Linked DNA regions of Homo sapiens: region 1 is linked to region 2. Evidence: fine-mapped QTL for protein levels in blood plasma. A gene starts in region 2. The other region holds a variant in brackets. All regions are shown on one strand. Distances are between the middles of the regions. Region 1 overlaps PRKG1 (protein kinase cGMP-dependent 1). Region 2 holds the start of PRKG1 (protein kinase cGMP-dependent 1).

The links. A credible set is the group of variants that fine-mapping cannot tell apart. PIP is the chance, under the fine-mapping model, that this variant and not a neighbour inherited with it causes the effect. Protein levels are from antibody-based Olink assays in UK Biobank. Linkage for the fine-mapping came from a reference panel and not from the study's own genotypes, which makes the PIPs less certain.
Region 1: its variant is the best candidate, but not a certain one, in a credible set for the plasma level of the PRKG1 protein (UK Biobank, PIP 0.69).

Annotation. Positions count from the first base shown.
Region 1 is chr10:51,917,752-51,920,662 of GRCh38, reverse strand. All of the region lies in intron 5 of PRKG1 (protein kinase cGMP-dependent 1), which reads right to left. Among named protein-coding and RNA genes, the nearest start is that of CSTF2T, 220 kb to the right of the region's middle. The variant T/A (reference allele first, on the strand shown) is at 1,441.
Region 2 is chr10:51,072,818-51,075,728 of GRCh38, reverse strand. PRKG1 (protein kinase cGMP-dependent 1) reads right to left here and starts at 1,242. Exons shown (of 18, transcript NM_006258.4): 1 at 828-1,242. The coding sequence starts at 1,138.

The DNA of each region.
Region 1 (2,911 bases), 840 kb before region 2:
GATTGAACCACAATTAAAGGGTGCTGCCAATATTCAAACCCAGGCATTATAATTATATGGCGATATAAAGATAGATATATAAACACACACATATATGCATACATATATCCATATATGTAGGATCACTATCTCTATTCTGTAGACACGAAACTAAACAGAAAGAGAGAAGACATGAACACTGTAAGATTGTTAATTAGGAGATTCCCATAGGCAAGCACTAAACTGTAACTGGGAAATCGGCAAGATGGCTATCAGAGGCCTTCACATCCTTGTGGAGTGAACAGTAACTGACAACAGTTCAGCTCTCTCCCCGGGGCCTTATACTGGAAAATCAACAACTTCTACAAAAGTTTCTTTCTTCTTCAAAATATCCTTCTAAAGGTTTGGCCTTTGTTATATCTCCCTGGGATGGATAGGGAAAGGAGAAGGATGATAGAAGAAAAATGAGTCTTATTCCTTTCCCATGATCTTTCTGTCCTTAGCTTCCCACACCTTCTTTGTTTTCCACCTTGATTGTGTATCCTTGACAATCTCCTACCAGCAACCTCTACTCTACATGCCCTCATGATGAGTTCTTGTATTTCAGAAGGCATGCTCCCTGTCCTTGATGCATTTTTAATCTAGTTGTGGTAATAAAGCATCCAAATGCAAAACAGAACAATTTTGTTTCATTCATTGGGTCACTCGGGTAGCATGTATGCATTTATTGTAAGCCTACTCAGACTTCTGATTCAACAAATATTTATTGTTTATTTAATAAGTACCAGGCATAATTCTTCCACAAATCCTTGCTGTGCTGGAAACTTGGGATATATGTTAAGACATACCCTGTGCTTAGGTACTTACAGAAAACTGGGAGACAGACAAGTTCCAGGCAATATAGGATCAAGCATGCAGCTTTGTAGTACAAACTGTACAAAAGGATTAAGAAAACAACAAACAGGATAGAGTAGAATTAGTCAGGGTAAGCCACTTTAAAAAAAAAAGGTGGGGGGCTGTTCAATTTGACCTTAAAGAACATTTTTGGAAGAGGAAAGAGGAGTCAGGGAGAGACAACACTCTCATGCCTAGCAATTATTAACATCTGTAATGTAAACTGATTTGCACAAAGTCAAAGCAAAAAAAAAAATCTGCAGAATGGTATTGCACAGCAGGTCTATTTACAAGACAAATCATGTTACGTTTATTAAAATAATAATTTTTAGGTGTAAGTAATAAAAAAGAATGGTAGCTCTTCCCAGAGAGTGAAGAGGAGCTCACTTACAGAATCTCATAATAATTAAGGGAACACGTAGAACATGAGGCAAACAGAACATCCTTTCTCACAACAACTGCCATCTCCCTAAAGCCTTGGTTGGTCACGGTTTGTTCCTCATTAACATTGACTGATTTGAGGAATGCTCATTACTAAAATACTGCCTGCCCTGGTTCAGAGCCTTA[T/A]CTACCAGGAAACAGACTTATACCCCCTGGCCTAAGGAACTGCATGATTCCTTTTCCGCAGGGAAGCAGTAGGTTGCCCTTGCTATGGATTCAGAGAAGTACTCTGTAGTCAAAGGTCTTGGGGAGGCCTGGAACTGAATACCCACATTATCTCCTGCACCACGTTGTTTGATAACTCTCCCTAGCACAAACAAGCTTTGTATTCTGTGGCTAAAACTGAAAGCCCAACTGATTTTCTTATCTTTAGCCTGTTACTTGTAAGCACGAGTGGGCTTCTATTCTTCATTGATTTATGCCTTAGATGCCAACTGTGTACAAGCCCGTGAGCTAGGTTTTCTGGCAGCTACAAATATGTCTCGGATTAAGAAAAAAAAATAGTTGAAAATCTTGGGTCAGGGCAATTTATCTAATTCAGACCAGTGTGCATCACTTGTCCCTGTAAAAGGAATTTGGAGCTCATCGTGATCTGCTCAGATGCTATCAAATGGCATTTTGTAAGCAGATCTCACACACATGCTGAAGGCAGGCTACTAATTTACAGTTTCACACAAATCCACTATTTGTTTACAAACCCCATAAATGACAGCAAATCACACAAATACCAAGCAGGTTTGTGTATTCTTACAGAGCAACCATTTCGAACACTTTCCATGAATGTTTTCTAGAAAGCTGATTTATTGCAGATTGGTTTCCTATTTGCAGAGCACATACATTTTAATGAATTACAAGCAGCATGGAGCAAAGCATGCATATTCTGGCAATAAAATGTCTAGAAACACTTTGTTTCGGGTCTCGTGGAAAGCATAAAATGGATCCCTGTCACAACAAATTTAAAATGCTGACTGAGAAAAAGCTAATTACTCTCACAAAAAAAAAAATAAAAAAAAAATAAGTCAAGTCGATATTTTCAGAAGGAAGTACAACCTATTTAAAAGAAAGAGTCAGGGGTGGGAGAAGTTTTTCTTTTATTAATTCCGCAAACTTTCAAGTTACAATGCAGTATAGTACTGAAAGGTACTGATTCCAGGGTCGGATTGCATAGGGTAAAATACTTCCCCATTTAATTCGCTGTGTTATCTGAGGCTCAGTCTTCCCACCTGCACATTGGGACTAGGAATAATAAGAATAGTACTATTGTTATTACTCAGATGGGATTAGACAAATGGCCTTAGCCTGGCACAGAGTTTGCATCAATAAGTGGAAGGTATTACTGTTGTTTTAATCAAATGCATATAGGAACCCAGTTAAAGGAAATATGAATATAGTTTTGCTTTTAAGGAATTTATATCTCAAGTTATGTTCACATAACTAGACACCAATTTAAAGCAATGAACAAGCATTTGTTTTTTTCTATGTAATGATGGCTAAATTGACTTACAAAATATGGGAGAGGGACCTCTCTATAGGGAGAGAAATAAAAATCACTGAGAATTAGAACTAGGAAGATCTTTGTTGAGAATTAAATACAGAA
Region 2 (2,911 bases):
AGTGGTTGCATTAGAAGCCAAGAGTAAGGCAAACAATGGGTCCACGTTTTAAATAAGATAAGTGTGCTTATCTGTATCTGACCCTGGAAACAAGCAACCACCTCTTGGGAGATGGAGATGCTCCATTAGTAACATTATGCACGTTTCTTAAGTAAAATAAGCAATCTTCTCCCTCATATGTTATGAAAAAATATTTCTTCAAAATCAACAGACTAGTCTTCCATTTATGGATTGTAAATGTCATCCAATTCAGGAAATCAAAAATTCTTCCTTTTTCTATGCCTATTTGCTTATGTTTCACACTTTGATGATGACAAGAACGTCAGGTTTGAAGGGTACCAGCGTGAAGCGCCAGCAGGTAGAGAAATCCGGGAGAGCCACAAAAGCATAGAAAGTATGGGTGATCAGACGCATTTCATTTCAAGTCTGATGAGCCTGCATTTAGGATTTTCCAGCTGGGCTGGTTTGCCAGGGCTTTTGGGAGACGGGGGCTTTTTATTTCTTCTCTCACACTCACACACACGGTCGGACACACACCTGGGACGTGTTCAAACTCTACGTACACTAGGTGGCTTATACGAATGTATATGTATATTTAAAAATAATACCTTGACATCTGACAAAGACACGAAGGCAACGTATGTGCAGTGAGTCTGGCTCTGAGAAACGTGCACAGCCCCGCAAGAAGTGCCCGTTAAAATGAAACATTTCTGAGGATGAGGACAGACATGGCAAGCGGGAGGGGCGGGGGCCGACAGACAATACAGAGACCCGCAGCTCCCCATCGCCAGGGCGCCACATGGACCCGGCGCGTCACCCCTGCTTACTGTGGGCTCTTGGGGTAGAAGGGCAGGGTCACATGGCTGAGATCCTGGATGTCGAAGGCGGTGGGCTCGGCGGAGATCGCCTGCCGCTTGGTGCGCGGCTCGCCCTGCAAGGTGCTCGCGCTCTGCTTCTGCGCCTGCTGGGTGGCTGGTCGGATCACCGAGCGGTACTTGTCCAGCTCGTTCTGCAGCTTCTGGATCAGTTCGTCCTTCTGATCCAACTCCAGCTCCAGCTCGTCGATGAGAGCATCCCGCTGCCTCAGCTCCTCGATCTTCTCCTGGAGCGCGTACTGTAAATCCCGCAAGGTGCCCATGCTCCTCCGGGCTGCCGGGGGCTCCTTCCTGCCGCTGCTCCGCGTCTTGAGGCTTCCTCCCCTCTCCGATCAACTTTCCCCAAAGTCGCCGCTGCCTCCCGAGTGCCAAAGCTTCCTACTTGAGACCAAAGCCAGCCCTGGCTTCTGAGCATGCCCAGTCCGCCGGCTCCAGCCACCCAGAGTTTCAGTGCAGATTCCACTTCTCTGGGCTGGCTGTGAGGCTCAGAGCGGGGAGAGCAAACCAGCAGGTCCAACCCGGGATTAAACCTGAGACGCGGTGGGCGCCGCGGCGCGGGGGAGAAGAGTCGGAGGCGCGGTGGCGGGGGAGCGGGAGGAGGGGACGTGAATGGGGGCTCCGAGGCAGCGGCTGGGCTCTCAGAGTCCCTCGCGCCGGGCGCCCAAGGAAGCTTGCGGGGCGTGCGGGGAGCCTGATAAGCCTCCGAGGCGCGCCGGGGGTGTGCGGGTGGAGCGAGGCGGGAGCGCTACTTCGGGGGTGGGGAGGTGGGAGGGAGGGGACAGGGAGGACCCCGGGCAAACTCGGGAGGCCTCAGCTGACTCCAGAGCAGACCAGCCTGGAGAATGTTGAGCTACGATCCTAGCGACGTACGAGGCATAGGGGACTCTGCATCATCAAAGCTCTGAGTTCTGGAGGTATTTTGACGGCCGGCCTCACTAAGGAAAGCTCCCGAGCGGTGTGGCCGAGCTGTCGCTTCTCCCACGCCACCTTTCCCACCCAGAGCGCCTCACACAGGTGGCTAACGCTTGCGAAGAAACTTGCCTCTCAGGAGATGCGAGCGAGTCGGCGCCCGCGAGGAATTCCCCCTTTCAGCCTACTACCTTTGGGAAAGGGTTGTGGGGTAGGGGGTGGGGTTTCCGATTTTAGCACCCGAGGCGTTGCTACTCTTCGCCTGCTCCAGATAGTTACTTTCCTTTCTGCCCCTTCCAAACTCTCATCGGGGAACTGTTTTAGGGCAAAGGCCAAAAACGGATTTGGGCCCTAGCAGGTCACTCAGCTTCCCCATGAGCCCTCCGCCTTGAGCTGGTGCCTGGGAATAGTTCTCGGATGGGCCTTGCTTCTTCCATTTGCTGAATTTGGCGGGGAGAGGGTGGGGGTTAAAAATCATTCCCGAGCTCCAAAAATTTCATCTTGAAACTGAATCATACCTTTAAAAATATTACTTTCCTCACAACCAAGCTGTTAGGAATGTATCTTTCCACTTGAATGGCCAGGAAGACATCCTGACACAAACTTTGAAGAAGAGGGAAAATCGTGAAGGAGCGAGGGAGACCACGCAGGCTGCAGTGAATTGTACACTATACTGCAGTCACCCCCACCTCTACCCACTCCCACCCTCATCCCTGCCCACTCAATATTCCCCAAAATGATCACAATTAGGTAACTTCCTTTCTATCCAAGTGTTACACTCCCATCATGGGAACACATGTTTAGAATCCCCAAATATCTGCCTAATACGTACCTAAATCCCTAATATTTGCTTAAGACATTACGAACTCATCCAATTTTATAGCATCTTTATTGGCAGATTTTTGATTACTATTCTTGGGCACTCAATATTATAATCCTCAATGCTCTATTTGGTTATTCCTTAACACTAAAACAAAGTGGACAGAAAATAAAATTGAATTGCAATGCAATTCTAAACTTAGCAAAGAATAGTATCAAAATAACTTGCACACTGTTGCTTTTGAATACACAACTTTTTGTATTTAAGCTAGAGACAGAGGAAGGGAGGAAAGGAGGGAGGGAGGTCA